Linked DNA regions of Homo sapiens: regions 2, 3 and 4 are each linked to region 1. The links come from fine-mapping of genetic effects on gene expression. A gene starts in region 1. Each other region holds a variant in brackets. All regions are shown on one strand. Distances are from middle to middle.

Region 1 (5,148 bases):
GGAGTTGCCTCATGGCTCTCTGATGCTTTGTTCTTTTATTGTTTTTAAGTTACGGGATGTAATAGCTACTTGGAAATCATTTGCTCCTGTTAGTTCTTGCTTTTAAGTTTTGTTAGGCAGCACCAGAATAGCCTTTGTAATTTTTACTGACTACAGAGAGGGACTTGCCCTTCTAATTATGCTCTGATGTTCTGTGTATTTCAAGATTTTTCCACTATGGTTGGTGGGAACTGGAACTATTCCCAGCTGGGTGTGGGCTCTTAGGCTCTTTTCCCTTGGGTAGTGTCCTTAGATGTGTGGGCTGAGACTCAAGTGGGACCCTCTGTGATCTCGCAAGCGCATTCTTTGCGCAGCTCTTTCCTCTCTGGTACTATGCCCTGCCAGCGTTAACTGCCTGGCTTCCCCAGACTCTCTTTGGGTTTCCTTTCTCCATCTGTGGTCTGCAAACTCCAGGCAGTGAGCAGTTGTAGCACTCACCTTATTTGTTTCCCTGCTCTCAGGGGTCCCTGCACTTCTTGTGGTCCACTGTGACAACTGTTGTTTCATACATTTTGTCCAGTTTTTTAGTTTAAGATGGGAAGGTGAGTCCAGTCCCTGTAACTTCATCTCGGCTGGAAGCAGGAATCTTATGTTAATAGTGAATTTTTAGCAGTGTTGACCAGGCTTTGATTGTATCTTTAGCCCTACTGTGTATGCAGTAAAGCACTTGGCCATTTTCTAATCTCTTCTATTGTTTAACCTAATGCCCCTCTAGATTGAGGTACCCTGGGAGAGGAATGATTTTCCATGCTACCTATGACCAATTAGAAATACAGATACATCAGACTACAACTTTTGAAGACGGGAAGCCCATAGTAGTTGCTAAGGAATGTCTTACTTAGACCCAAGGTACAGACAGGAAAATCATTAGGAGAGAACATGCCTCTAGGTGTGTGCCTTACTTCAGCATTCTCCAGAGAACTGTGAATTTCTAAAGCATGTGAACTTGAGAAATAGGCTTTGTCTTCTTAGGAAAATGTATCCTTTAGGGGGTGTTGAGAAAACAGCAGTGACAGGGGCCTCTGGCCTTGCCTCCTTGCAGTCAAGCTTCAAAGAGAAAACGTTGGGAAGAAAGACTCCTGCTGAGCCTGATGAAAGAGGAGTCCCAGTTGCCAACCAAAAACATGCAGCCAAAGTCCACAAGCTACAAGTAGAAAGGGTGGCTCAAGCCAGAGTCCCTGGATATGGAGGGCGAGTGATGGCTGCAGAAAGATGCAGGTTCTTCTCCCCCACTATGACTGGCCATCGCCTAGTGCAGGATGTACGGTGGCCCTGTCCCAGGGCTGTGCTGGCAGCCACCCTTCCCCACTAGCTGTGCTGCTCTCACATGGCACGGCCTCTGGCTGCCAGGCCTGTGCTCGGGCCTGCATTTCCCTTGTGCCCTTCTCTCCACCCAGCCCTCAGGACTGCCTGGGCTGCATTTTGTCCAGAATCCTTTGTCTCCTTACTTGCACTGCAGCTGAGGCGAGTGTCCCTTGTTCCGGGTGGCTCCTGTATTGTGGCGCTCATGTTATTGAGAGTCTTAGAGGTCACCCCCTAGATTCACCAATTGAAGGGCAGGGCTTGTCGATCTAACAGTGTCTTGCACATAGGGACACAAATGTCTGTTAAATGAAGAAAGTAGGGATGCCAGGCCACCCAATGGGGTGTATCTCCTAGGGTTCAAGAACAAGGGCTAATCAAGTCAAGAGAATGTGTGCCCTCCCCCACCATCTCACCCCTCACTCTCAGAACACTTGGGGCCCCTGCACAGGTGGTAGGCATGCTGGCCCTGAGTGCCCTCCCAGCCTGTGTTAGAAGAACCAGTGGATGACCTCGCTGTCAGCTGTCTCCCCTTCTCTGAGCTTACTGCAGGTGGCAGCAGCCTCTCAGCCACAGACTGTTCCCTTTCCTAGGAGAAAACGATGGTCACTCAGCAATGCTGTGCGCTTGCAGCTTCCACCACAAAAGAGACAGCTGTGGCCGCAGCACCAGGGTGGTGATTCTTCCCCCTCCAAGGGCAGTGGTGCATTCCTTAGCACAAGTATAAATTTACTGTTGCTAAGAGTTCTCGGAACAGGATAATACAAGAAGGAACCACTGCAAGTGAAATCCAGCCACCAGTAATGCCGAGAGGCCAGGCCTGTGCCTCCCAAAACCTGCTCCTCCGCAGGCTTCCCCGGCCCATCTCCAGAGCGCCCTCCTCTCACCACTTTACATAAACGAATGTACCCAAGATCCCCCATCAGTTTTCCATGCAGCTGCCAGAGTGCCACCAAAGCAAACCTCATCTCAAGACTCTGTGGCCAGGCCCTCACAACCTCCTGCCAGGCTCTCGCTACCTACCCATCAACAGCAAGACTCCCAGGCCATCTCAATCCCCCCAAAGAGCCCTGTTCCTCCAGCCCCACGGCTTCTGTTCACCTGCCGTGCTGTCCCCGCCTCTGCCCACCCACTCATCCTGCAGATCTGGAGCAGCATTCCAGGGCCTGGTAAGTGTGCGCCATTTTGGGTTACTACGGGTCTCGCCAGGCGCGGTGGCGAGTTTTGCCCCCCACGCTCCCCAGCGCCTGCACCTGGGCGGAGAGGTAGATAAGGCTGGGAGATCTTAGCCTTTTGCAAGGCAAACACCAGGCAGGAACGCCCAGAACCTCGGAGGAGGAGGAGGGGAAGATCCCCAGGTGGAGACCAAGGTGCCCCTCACGCTGAGTCGTCTAGGAGACCCTCCCTAGTTTAAAAAGTGTTTATTTGCTCGGAGAACATTTCAGGAGGCCTTCCTGGGACCCCAAGTGTGCCGCCCCCCGGGAGGGGCCTGGAGACGCCCGCGCGGCCCCCCTGCAAAGTTTTACCGGCCCTGGGCGCCCCCGGCCCTGGCACCCACGCGGGGAGCCGCAGTGGGCCGGGCCGCGCGGCCGCCGCCTCCCACCGCTCCCGCGCCCGCTCCCGCCCCCGGCGCGTCTCCTCCGGGCCCGCGCCGCGGCGGGCTCAGTCCTCAGCGGGGCGCGTGGCGAGCGGACTCGACTCGGCACCGCTGTGCACCATGGCCCGGGCCCTGTGCCGCCTCCCGCGGCGCGGCCTCTGGCTGCTCCTGGGTGAGTAGGTCCAGGGGTCCCGGCCGAGCTCCCTTCCCCTGGCCAGCCGGTGTCCTCTAGGGGAGAGGAGGGGAGCGGGTGGGAGCGGGTGGGAGCGGGTGGGGGCGGGCGCCGCGGGCGCACAGATCCGCTGCCCTTGAACGCGGGCCGCCCCGGTTCCAGGCGGGAGGCCCCAGGGCACAGGGGAGGCGGAGGGCGCGGACCGGTGTTGCGCTTCTCGCCGGGGAAGGGACGGCTTTGGGGACGTCGGAGAGCGGGCATTCTGGAAAGCGTGGGGTGAGTCAGCCCTGCACACTGGAGAACTAGTTTTCAGAAGGAAAAACAGGACGCGGGGTTCCCCAGCCCCGCACCTCGTTTCTCAGGCTGTGCGCCGCGGTGACTGCCAGCGCAGGCTCCCTTCCCTAGGCCGTCCCGCGTTGCAAAACCTGCAGACGGGCACCTTGCAGAAGACGCAGTGTTCGGGAATCAGAACCACAGCCGGTTTGTATGGAAATTAGTCAACACTGACAATCTGTCGCCTGCAGCAGTTGCTTGTTTGCAAATCACGTCTTTTGCAGAAATGAGGCCAGCCCTTTTCGGGACACTTCCATCGCTTTTTTTCTTTTTTCTTTTGGTTTGCTTGTTAACTTGGCACTTTTGGCTAATAGAAATTTAAAGAAGGACGGGTCCCTTGGTGAAGTGGTGGAACACGTTTGGCTTTCCACTTGGAGGGAGAAGTGGAGATTAGCGGCAGCCTCATGGCCACAGGAACTGGCCACACACTCGGCAAGAAACGGTGCTGTTCACTTCCCTTGTCTGTAATGTGTTCCTAAAATGCTAACTCAAGCCCCTTCTAAACCGCTTTGGCTATTGCATTATTCCGTGTATTTAGCTACCTTTTAACGGAAACTGTGAATAGGTTACTGGCGTGGGAGAACCCAGTGTCCCTGGGAAGGCCGGAGCAGTTGTTTCTGGTATGTGTGGCCTTTCCCCGGAAACAGTGATGTTGGTCAGAGGCACCTGCCGCACAAGACCTCTTTGGCGCTGGCACTGGGCAAGCAGGGACCACCGGCGCTGTTGTAGCTGGGGGAGTGGTTCGTGGCCCAGCGAGGAGAGGGGCCAGGGCTTCTTGGGAGCCATGGATTTCTGTTCCCTATTTGTAAACCTCTCCAAGGGGTGGCAGATCTGCATAGAATCCTCAGAGGCCGATATAATATAATCTGAAAGCGGATCTTGCCACTTTAGAGTTTTGGCTGAAGTTACGTGGAAAGCAGAATCTCGCAGTAATTTTATTCTCTCCATTTGGCTTGACATGGCCTTCACTGTTTTCATTTACTAAGAAACAAACATTTCTTTGTTAGCAAGGCAGAGAGCTGGGTTGTGGAATATTTTTTACATAAATAACCAAATAAATAAACGTTCTTTACTAGTGTCCAGAGGCTGAACCCTCTAAAGCTTGTGTAAATAAAACACTATGTCACGATCACATATAAAGACCTTCCTTGTTTACCGAGAAAACTATTCATGTTCTGCCGAAAGTCCAAAGTCCTGTAATTTTAACGTTATTTTGAGTGGCCTGGCTAATGTTATCTCTTGGAAGAACAAACAAAACTTTATGAGGTTATCAGTAAATTAATGTCATTGGAGCCCAGCTGTAATTAGTAGAATTACTGAGCACAGGCTGTTTCCTTCCCAAGCTGTAGCACTAGCCAGGTCTCCTTGGTGATGAAGATTTTGCTACCAAGAATGGCAATGTGGAATTTTTTTAAGTACTCTAGTTTACAGGTTTAAGAACTTATCTGTGACAATTTTACAATCAAGCTATTTGTCTTAGGTAGTTATTAAGAATCTCATAATCCGGCCAGGCATGGTGACTCACGCCTGTAATCCCAGCACTTTGGGAGGCTGAGGTGGGTGAATCGCCTGAGGTGAGGAATTCAAGACCAGCCTGGCCAACATGGTGAAACCCCGTCTCTACTAAAAATACAAAAAAAATTAGGCAGGCATGGTGGCAGGCACCTATAATCCCGGCTACTTGGGAGGCTGAGGCAGGAGAATC
Region 2 (5,148 bases), 39 kb after region 1:
ACCTGGGTGTCCCCACAGGGGTGCCAGGACACCTCCCAGGGGTTGTAGTGAGCCCTCAGCACCCGGCCCACAATGGGCACAGCTCAGCGATCTCCCAGCATTCCCTGATCCTCGGACCCTGGGACGCAATGCAACCCCTGCTCAGGCCCAGATGCAGCCAGCATAGGACAGTCTGTGACTTTGCCTGGGACACCCACTGCATTTTAAAACTGCACTTCATTTGGCAGCCCCAGGAGCCAGGGCGCTGCCCAGGCCTGTTCTCAGAGGAGGTATTATGCCCGTCCGCCCGCCTGCTGTGGCTGCTCTGTGGGGAGCCTGACTTGGCAGCTCCCAGGCTGTGTCTGGTGCCAGACCTGGCTGCACATGGAGCCAGGGATGGATTTAGAAACCTCTCGCTTCTCCCAGCATGGGCAGAGGCGCCCAGATTCCTCCCCGGCCTGGGGCCACCATAGCAGGAGAAGGGGAGGGAGGCAGAGGAAGCCAGGCCCAGGGAGGGCCAAGCAGCCCCCAGGCAGACCCCTGGACCGTTCCCCAGTCTGCACTGCCGCCTCAGGGACCTCCCCATCACCTCAGCAAGCGCCCTTTTCTGTAAGGAGGGGGTAAGAACACCTGCCCTCGGGTGATGTGAGAAGCACACTCACGCGGGGAAACAGGTCTTAGTATTTTCTTAGACTTTGTTTTGTTTTGTTTTAAGGCAGGGTCTCACTCTGCCGCCTAGATTGGAATGCAGTTGCATGATCTTAGCTCACTGCAGACTTGACTTCCTGGACTCAAGCAACCCTCTTGACTCAGCCTCCCAAGTAGCCAGGACTATAGGCACACACCACCACTCCTGGCTAACTTTTAAACTTTGTGTAGAGATGGGGGAGTCTCTCTGTGTTGCCCAGACTGGTCTGGAACTCCTGGGCTCAAGCGATCCTCCTGTTTTGGCCTCTCAAAGTGCTGGGGTTGCAGGCGTGAGCCACTGCACCCAGCCTCTTAGACTTTTGGACAGCAGAGGGGCCAGGCCTTTAAATGTCCTGGGGGTGTGATGTGCTGTCCGTGGGGATGGTGGGGTCACCTGCCCCAGCCTCAGTGGGTCCCTCTTTTACATGCCTGCAGCTCACCGGATGCTCCCGTGTGGCACTCAGCTATCATGAGGTGTGCATCCGTCCAGGTGGACCCCAGAGCCCCGCATGCAACCACGGGCCCCGCCTGGGCCTCAGCCTCCATCCCAGGAATGGGAGAACCAGCTTCACTTCAGGCCAGGAAAGAGGGAGACTGAAAGAGCAGATGACATGGGACAGGACAGAGCCTGAGGCCCAGACAGGCCATGAGCGAGGGGAGGTGAGAATAAGGCCACAGGTGGTCCCGTGTCTGCCTTCCCTGCTCAACGTGCAGAGAGGGCTGGCCATTTTCTCCGGCTTCATCAGCATGCTCTACAGTCACTGCGAGTGTTGCAGGAGGAATTGTGGCCTCCTCCACAGCAGCGAGAACACTGAGCCCCGTTTCATCTGTCTTCCTCCTGTTTCCTTGAACCCTCCCAAGATTCTTTCTTTGGTGCGTTATTCATGTTGTTCCTTTTCCTGCAAGAGAGAGGCCTTTGTCCTCCTTGTTCAGCAAGCACCTAGTCAGTGGTAAAGTGCAATATTTAGCTGGTAACAAAGGTGTGGAATGGAATTGGCTTCCATGATTTGGCGAAGTATTTGCAAGAAGCCTATGGTGAGGCTTCTTGTTTACAGATCCACGTGTCTTAGTGGAAACCTCAGAAACACATGCTCTCGTGGATGCTGTCATTCTTCTTTTTTTGTTTGTTTTGGTTTTTTGGGGGGGGGTTTTGTTTTTTGTTTGTTTGTTTGTTTTTTGAGATGGGGTCTCGCTCTTTCTCCCAGGCTGGAGTGCAGTGGTGCAACCTCAGCTCACTGCAACCTCCACCTCCCGAGTTCAAGCCATTCTCCTGCCTCAGCCTCCTGAGTAGATGGGACCACAGGCGTGCACCACCACGCCCAGCTAATTTTTGTATTTTTAGTAGAGACTGGGTTTCACCATGTTGGCCAGGCTGGTCTCAAACTCCTGACCTCAGGTGATCCACCCTCCTCAGCCTCCCACAGTGCTGGGATTGCAGGCGGGAACCACTGTGCCTGGCCAGATGCTGTAATTCTTTGGAAAGGGATGGAGTTGGCATTTCCCCTTATGCTGTTGGGAAAATGGCTTTGCTAAGATGTCAGAAGTCCCTGTTAATACAACTTAAATAGATAAACCATAGTCAGAGCCTGGGGAAAATTCCTGTTTAACATATTCATTTGCATGCAGTGATGACACTTATTTCAAAGCATTCCTGTCTCAGCAATGCAGTAGGTCAAATGTGTAGGCATCCCTGGGCTGGCACAGGTACATAGGACTTCTAATGCTTGGCCTTTTCCCTAGTTTGATTGTACTCTCTGACCAGCCTGATTTAGGAAGGGTTTGATAGTACAATATCCGTCTTTCCCTCACGCGTGCTGCCAGTCCCAGGGGGATGGGAGCAGCCACTCACCCGTAGGAGTTCCAGGTGTGCACAGCTGGCTCAGAGCCTGCTGGCCCAGCACACATTTCCCAGGCCAGCACAGTGTGCTGAAGTGCTTTTCATCAAACAGTTAACAAGACTTCCTTATACATTTCCCCAGTGTCAAGAAAAACAAAAGGTGCCCAGTTCTCTGCTGCCTCCAGCAGTGCTGGGCAGAAGTGAGACAGGAAGCCAGGCTCCCGAGCTCACACACGCAGACGTAGGTGGGAAGCTACACTGCGTGGGCTTTCACATCCCCAGGGCCCGGGCTGAGGCCTCTTAAAGACAAGCTGGCCCTGTGCTTGCTCCA[C/T]ACCTGACGCACGCCAGGCCAGGCCACAGCGTGGCTCTCTGTCAACAGAGGAAGTGGCGCAGTAAGTGGCCAGCCCCTCCCTGCTTTGGAAAGGTCCCGCTATTCACAGAATCCTGGGTGTGAGCCCTGACACCAAAGGCAGAAACCACAAGGGAGAAGCCAGCCCTGGCTGCCTAAATGCGAAATAAGCCTGTTGCTGGCTGCCACGAAAATGCCACTGTGTTCCAGTCCTAAATGGGGTGCATGCTATTGGTTTGAGACAGTGATTTTTTTTTTTTCTTTGAGACTGGGTCACACTCTGTCACCCATGCTGGAGTGCAGTGGCATGATCTCCGCTCGCTGCAACCTCCGCCTCCCGGGTTCAAGCAATTCTCCTGCCTCAGCCTCCTGAGTAGCTGGGACTACAGGCACACGCTGCCACACCCAGCTAATTTTTTGTATTTTAGTAGAGATGGGGTTTCACCGTGTTGCCCAGGCTGGTCGCGAACTCCTGACCTCAGGTGACCCGCCCGCCTCGGCCTCCCAAAGTGCTGAGATTACAGGCGTGAGCCACTGCACCTGGCCGAGAGAGAGATTTTTATCACATGAAGAAAATAGCTTCTTTCTGTGTTTTCAAGGTTGTGGCTTTTTTAAAATCAGAAAAGAATATTGAGTTTTCTCAAATGCCTTCTCAATGCGTATTAAAATGACGGTACATTTTTTTCCCATGGTGTATTAAAGTGTGATTTTGTAGTAACAGGTTTAAAGCATTCCTGAAATTAGCCCTCCTTTAAATAAAATATGCTATGTGGCTAGATGAAGTTTGTTAGCATTGGGTAGGGGACTTGAGTGTCTATTTATAGGTGGAAGCGAAGGGCATCTGTTCCGTCCGTGTGCGCATGCGTTGAGACGCATGTCATGCCATCTCAAGAGGCTTGGGATCAGGGTTTGTTAACTTTTTTAAATGAACTGGGAAGCTGCACATCTTTTTCTTTCACTTTAAGAATTTGCAGTGGCTCACGCCTCCCACACCTGTAATCCCAGCACTTTGGAAGGCCGAGGTGGGAGGATCGCTTGAGCCCAGGAGTTTGAGACCAGCCTGAGCAACATAGTGAGAACCTGTCTCAATTAAAAAGAAAAAAAAAGAATTTGAAAGAACTGCCTGGGATCTAGTGCCTTTTGAAACAGCAATTCTTTAATAACATTTGCCATTTTTCTTCTTGGAATTCCTCCTTTTTAAGTCGATATTTGATAGTTTATAATTTAACCAAAAAGTATCCCAATTCACTGAGGATTTTCCAATTTTTAACAAACCTTTTTTACGTATTAATCTCTTATACTTCTTCTTTTTCTTTTCTGTTTTTTGTTTTTTGTTTATTTGTTTGTTTGTTTAGGACAGTGTCTGGCTCTGTCGCCCAGGCTGGAGTGCAGTGGCACGATCTCGACTCACTGCAACCTCTGCCTCCTGGGTTCACGGCATTCTCGTGCCTCAGCCACTCAAGTTAACTGGGACTACAGGTGTGTGCCACCATGCCTGGCTAATTTTGATATTTTCAGCAGAGATGGGGTTTCGCCATGCTGCCCCGGCTGGTCTTGAACTCCTGAGCTCAAGTGATCTGCCCACCTCGGCCTCCCAAAGTGGTGGTATTACAGGCGTGAGCCACCGCACCTGGCCTATATTGCTTCTAATAATTATTGATGGACAAATTATGTGCCATTTGGAGAGATTTATTTTGTTCTTTTTAAAAAATATCTTGCTTTGGATACTTATTTTGTTTATTTTCATTTATTTTTGTTTAATAAAATAATTTATAACTATTAATTTTTCTCAGAATTCACTTTTGCCCCATTCCATTCATTTGTACATATAGTATTGCCGATCTTGTTCTCTTAATATTTTGTAATTGAATTTTTAAATTCTCCTGTGACTTCGAAATTATATAAATGATCTTTCATTTCTAGGAATTCCATTTTTTTAAATTTATCCTTTTTTTAAAACTAATTTTTAGTTTTCAGTATTGTAGCCTGAGAATATTGACTTATGATTTATACTCTGGGGATTTGATGAGTCTCTTTTTGCCGCCTAACACAGACCCAGGGGCCTTTGAAAAGCCGGCTGAGTCTCTGTAGAATAGAACCTTTATCAGACAGTCACTGCATCGGTTTATTAACATTATTTTTCATAATCACTTTATGCTACTGTTTATCTACCTAGCCTTGGGAGGTGTGTTTAAGTCTCCCACGTGTCTTGCGTTCCTGGCAGCTGCGGGCTGTCTGTACGCTGTGGCGCAGTGCCAGCTGTCCTGGGTGGAGCATCCCCATCAGCCCCACTGAT
Region 3 (5,148 bases), 27 kb after region 1:
CACTCCAGCCTGGGTGATAGAACCAGACCCTACCTCAAAAAAAAAAAAAAGAAAAGAAAAGAAAAAAAAAAAAGAGGCTCCTCCTCTGCACAGGGGTCATTCCTGGGTCCCTGCCCTGGCCTGTAGGTCCACTTTTTTTTTTTTTTTTTTTTTTTTGCGCATTCAGGGTTTGTAGCCACTGCGCTTGCCCTGGGACCTTGGCTGCCCGGCATGGATCTGCACGCAGGTGCTTGCTGGGTTCCGACAGCCCTTGCCCTGACCGTGACCCCACTCCTCCGCTCATCCTGTTGCTTTGTTACCTGGTTGGTGGATTTTGTCAGGTTGTCTGTTGTGAGCAAGGCTTGGGGGTGATTCCTGAGCCCTTTCTAACACGTGTTGGGTGTCTTCCACTCAGCTACATGGAACAGGTCCCTGAAAAGTGGCTGAATGAGCTCAGCGGGGCCAGGCTCCCCTGCAAGCTGGCTGGGCCGTCATTTACCAGGGGTTATCATCTCATTAAGCTGCAGCCTTGGTTTGCTGATGGAGGCATAATGTGATTTAATGTATTAACTGGAGCTACAATCTAATTTGAGGAGGTATAGAAAACCTGGCAAATGTGTCATCGGGAACTCTCATTTCCAGAGACCTTCCTATGGGTGTAGGGGAGGGAGAGAGAAGGCAGAACAGAGAAGAGAAGAATCTGGAACGTGCTGGACTCGGCTATAAAACATGGGTTTTTAAAAGCCTCACGTCAGATTTCCTCACCTAAATAAGAAATGCTCGGTTGATTTAAGAGGGAAGGGGACACGCCTATTCCACCCCACCCTGTATGGCTTCAGGGTCTGAGTGCCATCTTGGGCAGGGGAAAGGTGTCCTCGGGGAAGATGCCAGAGGATGGGGCCACAGCCTTCCCAGCATCTGAGGTCACTGGGCCCCAGAGAACCAGACTTCACTTCCATACCAGCTGGGATGCCTCCGTCCCTCTGCCCTAAAGCTTCCAGGTTTGTAAATACTGACCATGGTAGCCTCAGGTCACCTCAGCTTTGGTTACCCGAGGCTGTCACTGCGGACCCTGCCCTGCCCTGCCGACCCCATGCTGGGCAATCATGGGCCCTCCCCCAGCCCAAGGAGCTGCTCAGAGGACGGGGCTCCAGGCCCCAGGGAGTGGGGCTGCAGCCCAGCGTGGTAGTTGGGGGACGCAAGACAAATGTCTGCAGTGCCTGCTGTGGTACGGCGGCTCAGCATGGCCAGCGCCAGGCATGACGCTCTGGGTCCACACGACGTTGGGCAGGGTGCACCAACACTTTGGGGTCCTTCCCAGCCTGCTGCATTTCCCTCCTGCTGCCTTCTTTGTGTCTCCTGCTAAAAGAGTCAAGTCAGGAAATTCTTCAGAACTCAGCAGCAACATGGGAACAGCTGCTTGTATTTTGAATTTCAGCAGGAACTGAGAGGGAGGCTTCTTCTGAAATCACGAGGGCTGTCTGGGCCAAGGGCAGGGTGTCCTCCTGGATTTCTGCTGAGCTCGACCCCCACGAGGTCTCGGGATGGGCTGTTCACAGAGCCCTGCCCGCCGCCTGCCCCTGCCCGGAGGCCTGGCCCTGGAGCCCACCCACCTCCCTGAGGCCTGTCGTGAGCATCAGGAGCTCCCAGTACAGCATCTGGGGCTGCCTCGGTGCCCTCGTGGGTTTGTTCATGGCGGTGTCCGCCCTGGAACTTGCCACATGCCCACGAGCACTGGGACCCCTCTGTGCTCTCCCTGGTGGCTGTGGTGCTGTCATCCCTGTGTGTGCTGGTGGAATAGCGTGGGCTCCACGGAAAGGCCCTCAGGCGTGGACAGGACAGATGGCAGTGCCCAGCACAGCCAGGTCTCAGAGGATCCAAAGGCGAGCATTGCCCAGGCCGAGGCCGCCCTCCCTGCCTACTGACCTCCCTGCCCACCGCCACACCATCGCTCCTGCCGTGCCCCTCTCTGTGTGTCTGCACCAGGCGTGAAGCCAGTTCTTGTGAGGAAAGCCCTGGCTAGATGTCTGTTCCCCCACCCTCTGCCCCCCCTGGGTGGGAGAATCTTTCCAGGCATCTCCAGAGCACACCCCAGGGGCACGGAAACCCGGCTGCTGACCCCTGACCTCCTGGGGCCTTCAGCACTAATGGCCAGCCCCGCGGGAGGCAGAGGAGCAGGAAGAGCCCCTGGGAGCCGGGTCCTCGAAGACTCCAGGCTATGGCTTACAGAGGAGAAGGGGGCAGAGGAGGAGAGAAGGAGGTGGCTGTGCCAGGAAAGACATGCAGCTCGCGCAGTGACACCAGTCTGGCTCCCCTGAGGACGCCACTCCTGTGGCCTGCGCAGGCATCAGCCGGGGTGCCGGGTCCCCATGGGGACGAGCTGTAGACACAGCTGTCCAGGGCTGGGCAGAGTGGGGCAGTGGCTGGGGATATGCCGGCCCTGCCCAGGCCGCCCCACGGGGGTGTCGTTCCACCTTCCTGTAGTCTCCTTGGCGCGCGTGACCGTGGTTGTGCAGGGAGCGCCTTCTGCTGGTTTTCAGCACTGGAGAAATAAACCAGGG[C/G]TCAGAGTCCTTGGCAGCCGCCCCTGGAATGTGTTCAGGTCAGGGGTTGCCTCACTTAACGTGCGCGCCATGGTGGGTTCTGATGAGGATCCCCAGAGGATCTGATGACACCTGCCTGCTGGGCTGGGGGGCTCTGGAATGGGGAGGAGGAGCCCCATTTCCCTTCTCAGAAAGCTCCAGGAGAAATGCATCTGTGAGGACCCACAGAGAGGAGCCCTCGTGTTGGGGGAGCTTGGAGGCTGGGGCTGGAGCGGGCGACTGCTGGCCTCACCCCTCCACACCCAGGGACCACCTTGTCATCCTCAGCACATCTTTTTCGGAAGTCTTCTGGCCCTGGGGGAAGGCACAGATGGAGAGACCTTCCCCAGACCCTGTGGTGACTTAGCGCGGAGCGTGGCACTGAGCCCACCATGGCGTCTTTCCCATCAGGTGATTAACTGCCTGGTTTCACATCCTCCTGAGTATGGGGATGAAATCAGGCCTGTGCGTCAACGCGAAAGGTCAGACATGCGGTGACGCTAACCAGATCCCGGCAGTGAGTGAAAGGGTGGGCAGGTGGAACACGTCTGGTGGCGGGGGCTCGTCGTAGCTCAGCATCCACCCCCGCCTCCCCTGTGGACACTCGACTACAGCAGCCACACCCCCAGAAAGCCCTAGAACCATCCAGGCTGTGCAGACGGGACTTGGCTGTCCTGGGACACAGGCCAGTTTGTGCACACAGGGCTTCACTGAGCCCCGAAGGCGGCCTCCTGGGCTGCCCATGGGGAAGGGGTGGGGGTGGGGTGGGGGAGAGAGGATGAAGATGTGCCCTTGTGTGTGACACCTCTGGCTGTGGGTCCTGTGTGGGGAGGGCAGTGGGTAGAGGACAGAGCAGATGTCCCCTCCTAATGCTGACCTTCACTCCAGCCCCCAGGCTGGGCCATGGCATCTCCCAGGATCTATCCATTCATCACTCAGATGGTAGACATCTCCCAGGCACAGGCAGGGCCAGCAGCATTCTCAGTCCCCTGTGGGAGGGCCTCCAGGGAGCAGTGGCACCTCACAGCCTTCCCTGTGCATAGTTCGAGGACACCGAGTATCTTGCGGGACCTAAGCACAGGGTGCCCTTTGGGATGCGTCTTGGGACAGGCCTTGGGTCTGAGTCCACTCTTGTTTCAGCTTCTTGTCTCAATCAAAAAATGGAGAATGCACTTTCTGAAAAAGAGACTGAGTTTACCCTCACTGCCCAGGCAGTGGAGGCCGCCTCACTCTAGGGCAGGCCACACTGGCACGCTGTGGTTCCCTACTCCTGCTCGAGTTAAAGCCATTTCCTGGTTTTTGCTATTATAAATGATGGAGCTGGGCACAGTGGCTCACACCTGCAATCCCAGCACTTTGGGAGACCAAGGCATGTGGATCACTTGAGCCCAGGAGTTCGAGACCAGCCTGGGCAACATGGCGAAACCAGGTATCTACAAAAAATGTAAACATTAGCTGAGTGTAATGGGCGCACCTGTAGTCCTAGGGAGGCTGAAGTGGGAGGATCGCCTCGGCCCAGGAGGTTGAGGTTGTGCCACTCCATTCCAGCCCAGGTGACAAAGTGAGACCTTGTCTGAAATAAATGACAACACTATAAGAACTTGTGTACATATATCCTTTGTTTTTTTAAAAAAGATTTTGTTGTTAGACATTCCTGGGAGAAATAATTCATGCAAGTAGGCTTACTGTAGCATGTACCATGAACATTCTGTGGTTCTGGGGGGTTTTTTTTTGAGACAGAATCCTGCTGTGTCGCCCAGGCTGGAGTGCAGTGGCACAATCTCGGCTCACTGCAACTTCTGGCTTCTGGGTTCAAGCGATTCTCCTGCCTCAGCCTCCCGAGTAGCTGGGATTACAGGTGCCTGCCACCATGCCTAGCTAATTTTTTGTATTTTTAGTAGAGACAGGGTTTCACTATGTTGGCCAGGCTGGTCTCAAACTCCTGATCTCAGGTGATCCACCTCCGCCTCTCAAAGTGCTGGAATTACAGGCGTGAGCCACCACGCCCGGCCCATTCTGTGGTTCTTGATAGATTTTTGCCAGTTGTTCCTCTAAAGAATTTTACTAATTTATAATTCTATCAGCAACATATGAAAATGCCTAGTTCCTCATAGGCTCGTGAGTATTGAGTTTGTAGGGATTTTATTTTTGCAGGTCAAAGGAGATTTCCTCTGTAGTTTTAGTTTGCATGTCTTTGGCAATTAGGAAAGTTGAACTGGTCTCTGACAGTTATTTGGAATTTGTTTTTTCTCAAGTGCAAGTTACGTCACCATGACCTTTCCTATTTGTCCTGTGAGTCATTGCCCTTTTTTCCTTTTTTTAAGACTTTATTTTTTAGAGCAGTTTTAGGTTCACAGCAAAATTGAGAGGAAGGTACAGAGATTTCCCATATGCCCATTGGAGGTATTTTTAATCTTCTTTTACAAATTCTTTTTTTTGTTTGTTTGTTTTGAGACGGAGTCTCCCTCTCTTGCCCAGGCTGGAGTGCAGCGGCACAATCTTGGCTCACTGCAACCCCTGCCTCCCGGGTTCAAGTGATTCTCCTACCTCAGCCTCCTGAGTAGCTGGAACTACAGGCACCCGCCACCAC
Region 4 (5,148 bases), 46 kb after region 1:
GCCTCAGCCTCCCAAAGTGCTAGGATCACAGGCATGAGAGCTGTTCTTCTGCCCAGCTTTAGAACATAAATGTTTTTCCACATCTTAAAATTTTCTTCCTAAATATAATTTTAACAGCTACATAATGGAGCCACTCATAAACAATTTCTGTGACCGCTGTCCTGTTGTTTGCTGTTTTTCATAATTATAAATCTGCAGTGGACACCTTCTTACATCACTGTTATCTATATTTCACATTATTAATTTAGGATAATTCCCAGTAATGCAATTACGGGGTCAAGAGGCATCCGTGAGTTTGAGATTATTGATACATATTGCCAAATTGTGTTTCAGAAAAATTGTACCAGTTTATCTTCCCTGAGGATTGCTATGAGTGCCTGCCTCAGTATCCTACACCTTCACTAGCATTCAGCATTATTTTCTTTTTTTTTGAGACAGGGTCTTATTCTGTTGCCCAGGCTGGAGTGCAGTGGCAGGAACATAGCTCACTGCAGCCTCAATCTCCCACCTCCCTGGGCTCATGTGATCCTCTGACCTAAGCCTCCCAACTAGCTGGGACTACAGGTGCATCCCAGCACTGGCAAATGTTTGTTGTTGTTGTTTCTTTAAGACAGAGTCTCGCTCTGTCACCCAGGCTGGAGTGCAGTGGTGCGATCTCCGCTCGCTGCAACCTCCACCTCCCAGGTCCACGCCATTCTCCTGCCTTAGCCTCCCGAGTAGCTGGGACTACAGGCACCCGCCACCACGCCCGGCTAATTTTTTGTATTTTTGGTAGAGTTGGGGTTTCACTGTGTTAGCCATTTTGTATTTTTTTGTAGAGACAAGGTCTCACTATGTTTCCCAGGCTGCTCTCAAACTCCTAGGCTCAAGCAATCCTCCGGCCTAGGCCTCCCCCAGCGTTGGGTTTACACGTGTGAGCCACCACGCCCAGCCTAGCATTCTCCTTTTTAAGAGGAGTGCCATCTGGATGTTTGGTCTTTCATTTCACATGCTTAGTAGTCATTTGTATTTCTAGAAGAAATATTGGGCCGGGCTCAGTGGCTCACGCCTGTAATCCCAGCACTTTGGGAGTCTGAGGCGGGCGGATCACGAGGTCGGGAGATCAAGACCATCCTGGCTAACACGGTGAAACCCCGTCTCTACTAAAAATACAAAAAAAAAAAATAGCCAGGGCGTGGTGGCGGGCACCTGTAGTCCCAGCTACTCGGGAGGCTGAGGCAGGAGAATGGCATGAACCCAGGAAGTGGGGCTTGCAGTGAGCTGAGATCATGCCACTGGACTCCATCCTGGGCAACAGAGCAAGACTCTGTCTCAAAAATAGAATAAAAATCAAAATAAATAAATAAATGAAAGTTAGCCAGGTGTGGTGGTGCACGCCTGTAATCCCAGCTATTCTGGAGGGTGAGGCAAGAGGATCACCTGAGCCCGGGAGGCAGAGGTTGCAGTGAGCCAAGATCGTGCCACTGCACTCCAGCCCGAGCAACAGAGCAAAACGCTGTCTAAAATAATAAATAAATTTTAAAAAGCGAATATAAAGCCAAAAGTGCTTTCCCCTCAGATTTTCTGACAATTTAGACACACATTGCCTGGTCACCTTTTGCTTAAGTATAAACTCAAAAAGGACAAGAAATGTATACGTCATGAGCCAGTCAAGTGAGGACCTGTATCTTTATCTTAATAGGAGACTAAGACTTGAACAAGCGAATGAGGTCTCCAGGATCACTCTGGGTAAGAGGTGGAGCTGGGATTTGAACCCAGGTCTATGGGTGACAGGGCCCAGGCTCAGATATTTCATATTAGGGCCAGCCGGGGGTAGCTGGGGGACAACTGCAACCCAGGGTGTCCCCAGAGTAGATGACTCACCTGTGAGCATCAGTGATCACACTTTCTTACCAGCAAGTAACCATGAACAGTGGTGTCGGGCCTTGACTTGGGACCCAGATATGCTGGAAACTCCCACCATAGGATTCAGGAACATTCCAAGCAAAGTTTGCTTCGAGCCCCAGAATAGAAGGTCCTAGCCAAAAAAGGATAATTACTCAGTGACACGAGAACTGAAACTTTAGGGAGTTAAAGCCAGGGTGTATTTTTCATGACTATTTTGGGTCCTTCAGTCCGTTCTGTGTTCTTTTGGGCAGAAGAATGTCTGTACTCTGAGGGGAATTCTTTTATCACATCCTCACTGACGGAGCTCACAAC[A/G]TTTATTGAAAGTTTCAGCTGTCACTTCTGTATAAATAAACAGGATGAAGTGGGCAGCCGACTGCACATTAGAGATATTTTTAGACGTGGGTGGCACTGCAATCCAGAAGGCTGACATATCAAGGAGAGAGTGCCTGATCCCAGAATAGCCCACCCACACACGGCCCTATCTGCCTCAGCGTGGCCTCGGCGTGGGTTCTGTGGTGGCGTGGCTTCCTGCATCCGCTCCTTCCTGTTCTGTTTGGCCAGTGCAGAGATGGCAATAGCTCCTCCTAAAAATGCCACAGCTCCGCTCCTCAGAGGACAGGGGTCAGTGTTCAGGATCATGTGTCACTGGATCTGCAGAACACCAAAAACTAAACTGCCTGCGGGTTTGGTGGGTCTGAGATATGGGAGAGGATCATCATTCAAAGCAGGCTTCATTGGTCAGATGCAGTGGCTCACGCCTGTAATCCCAGCACTTTGGGAAGCCAAGGAGGGTAGATCACCTGAGGTCAGGAGTTCGAGACCAGCCTGGCCAACATAGTGAAACCCCATCTCTACTAAAAATACAAAAATTAGCCAGGCATGGTGGACCATGTCTGTAGTCCCAGCTACTTAGGAGGCTGAGGCAGGAGAATCGCTTGAACCTGGGAAGCGGAGGTTGCAGTGAGCTGAGATTGTACCACTGCACTCCAGCCTGGGCAACAGAGCAAGACTCTGTCTCAAAAAAAAAAAAAAAAAAAAGGCAGCATTCTCACTGTTTAGCCCTGTAGTTGAGAAGGCTGGACTTGGTTTTCAGCAACAATAACACGTCTAACATTTACCATGGACCGGCCACATAACGTGCACTCATTCGTTTTTCCCCCACGATGAGACTCAAACCGTCACGACTTCATGTGGCTTTTTCCACTTCTGTTTTCTTCTTGAAACATGAGTCCTTGTTCACCTGGAGAGACCACACACCCCAATGCCTACAGGCACGGCACACTCTCTGCTGCCTCTCCCTCCTCATGCCTCATCTACTAGGCCTCTTGGATGGGCTAAGGGAGGCCCTGCACACTCAGGGCAGTGACCTAGAGGGCAGCCAGGAAGGAAAAACAGTGACCGTACGATAGGGGCGGGGGTAGAGGGGTGCTGGGATGCCGGAGAGGCCCCTACTTTTTCTGTATAGCCTCTTAAAGCCCCCAGGGGTCTCCTCACATTTAATTTATGGCCTCTGATCCATTTACTCACTTTCTAGATTAAATATAAGGAAAAGTACCCTTCTATTGTCTTCATTTTCACTGTTTTTGGAGCCCTTCATCTATTTATGTGGATCTCAAACTCTTTCTTATCACTGAAGAACTTTCTTTGACATTTCTTGTAGCACAGGTCTGCTGGCAATGAATTCTCTCAGCTGCTTTTTTCTCAAAAGGTTCTTATATCAACCTCTTTTTTTTTTTTTTTTTTTTTTTTAAAGACAGTCTTGCTCTGTCACCCAGGCTGGAGTGCAATGGCGTGATCTCAACTCACTGCAACCTCCGCCTCCCAGGTTCAAGTAATTCTCCTGCCTCAGCCTCCCGAGTAGCTGGGATTACAGGCATCTGCCACCATGCCCAGCTAATTTTTGTATTTTTAGTAGAGATGAGGTTTCACCATGTTAGCCAGGCTGGTCTCGAACTCCTGACCTCAAGTGATCCGCCTGCCTTGGCCTCCCAAAGTGCTGGAATCACAGGTGTGAGCCAATGTGCCCAGCCTCAACCTCATTTTCAAAAGGTATTTTTTTCTAGGTATAGAATTCCAGGCTGACAAATGTGTTTCCCCTCCCCGCAACCTCTAATACTTTCAAGATGTTGCCCATTGTCTTCCCACATGACAAGCCTCTGATAAGAAATTAAGAAATCTGCTGTAACTCACTGTTCTTCTGTATGTCTTTTTTCCTCTGACCTCAAGATTTTTTCCTTTTTCTTTGGTGCTCAGCAGTTGGAGTTTGATGTGTCTATTTGGTTGTTTGCTGTTGTAGCTGCTTTGTTTTCTGTCCTGCTTGAGGTTCTCCAAGCTTCTTGGATCTGCGATTTTATGTCTTTCATTATTTTTTTAAAAGCCTGAGCCATTATCTCTTCAAATATTTCTTCTGCTCCATTCCCTCTCCTCTTTCTGGGACTCTCACATTATGAGTTGAGGTTGATGTCATTTATAGGATTGTCATGTTACACAGTTCTTGGATGCTCTGGTTTTCCCTCACTTTTTTTTCTCTTTGTGTTCCAGTTTGGTTAATTTCTACTGACATCTTCAATTTCTCTCTTTCCTCAGTTTTCGTGTCTGCTGATGGGCCCATTGAAGGAATTCTCTCTGATGCCATATCTTTTTATTTCTAGCAACTGTCTTTGACTTTGAGTTTTCACTTCTCTGCTTAAATTCTCCATCTGTTCATGCATATTGTCTGCCATTTCCACTAGACCCGTTGTCATACTAGCCATTCTAACATAACTGTCTGATAGTTACAACATCTAGGTCGTCTCTGAGTCTAACTCCATTCATTGTTTTGCCTCTTGACAATGGGTTGGTTGTTTTTTGTTGCTTCTGAACAAAAAATATATAATTTTTATTGAATACTGAACATTCATGTATAGAACAGAGGTGACTACGGTCAATAGTATTTACATATGGAAATGGGTAATCCTCTTCTGTCAGACCGTTAGTGTGGGATTTGAGTCAATCTTGTTAGGAATTGAGCTGGGTTTGGGATTTGTCATTGTTATGGTTATCTTCAATGTACCATAGGCCTCAAGTACCTCTAGCAATGAGCTGTCATTGCCTTGTGCCCAGGGTTGGGACTAGGGCACTGGAGGAGATTCCTCAGTGTGGTGCCCCACCCTCTGCTTTCAGCTTTCTCTTGCCTGCCTGTGCTGCAGCATGGATCTTACCCCACTTTCTCTCGGCAGTAGACAGCTGCTGCTTGTTATTCTACCAAGGTTATGTTCAAGG

Evidence for each region.
Region 2: its variant is fine-mapped to the expression of RAMP1 in whole blood (TOPMed, PIP above 0.99).
Region 3: its variant is fine-mapped to the expression of RAMP1 in esophagus muscle (GTEx, PIP above 0.99).
Region 4: its variant is fine-mapped to the expression of RAMP1 in whole blood (INTERVAL, PIP above 0.99).

Annotation. Positions count from the first base shown.
Region 1 is chr2:237,856,618-237,861,765 of GRCh38, forward strand. RAMP1 (receptor activity modifying protein 1) reads left to right here and starts at 3,006. Exons shown (of 3, transcript NM_005855.4): 1 at 3,006-3,110. The coding sequence starts at 3,059. RefSeq lists enhancers at 818-1,606, 1,607-2,393.
Region 2 is chr2:237,895,973-237,901,120 of GRCh38, forward strand. All of the region lies in intron 2 of RAMP1 (receptor activity modifying protein 1), which reads left to right. Among named protein-coding and RNA genes, the nearest start is that of RAMP1, 39 kb to the left of the region's middle. RefSeq lists enhancers at 1-2,983, 2,951-3,000, 3,081-3,190. The variant C/T (reference allele first, on the strand shown) is at 2,835.
Region 3 is chr2:237,883,781-237,888,928 of GRCh38, forward strand. All of the region lies in intron 2 of RAMP1 (receptor activity modifying protein 1), which reads left to right. Among named protein-coding and RNA genes, the nearest start is that of RAMP1, 27 kb to the left of the region's middle. The variant C/G (reference allele first, on the strand shown) is at 2,541.
Region 4 is chr2:237,903,106-237,908,253 of GRCh38, forward strand. The region is part of intron 2 of RAMP1 (receptor activity modifying protein 1); the gene reads left to right. Among named protein-coding and RNA genes, the nearest start is that of RAMP1, 46 kb to the left of the region's middle. The variant A/G (reference allele first, on the strand shown) is at 2,200.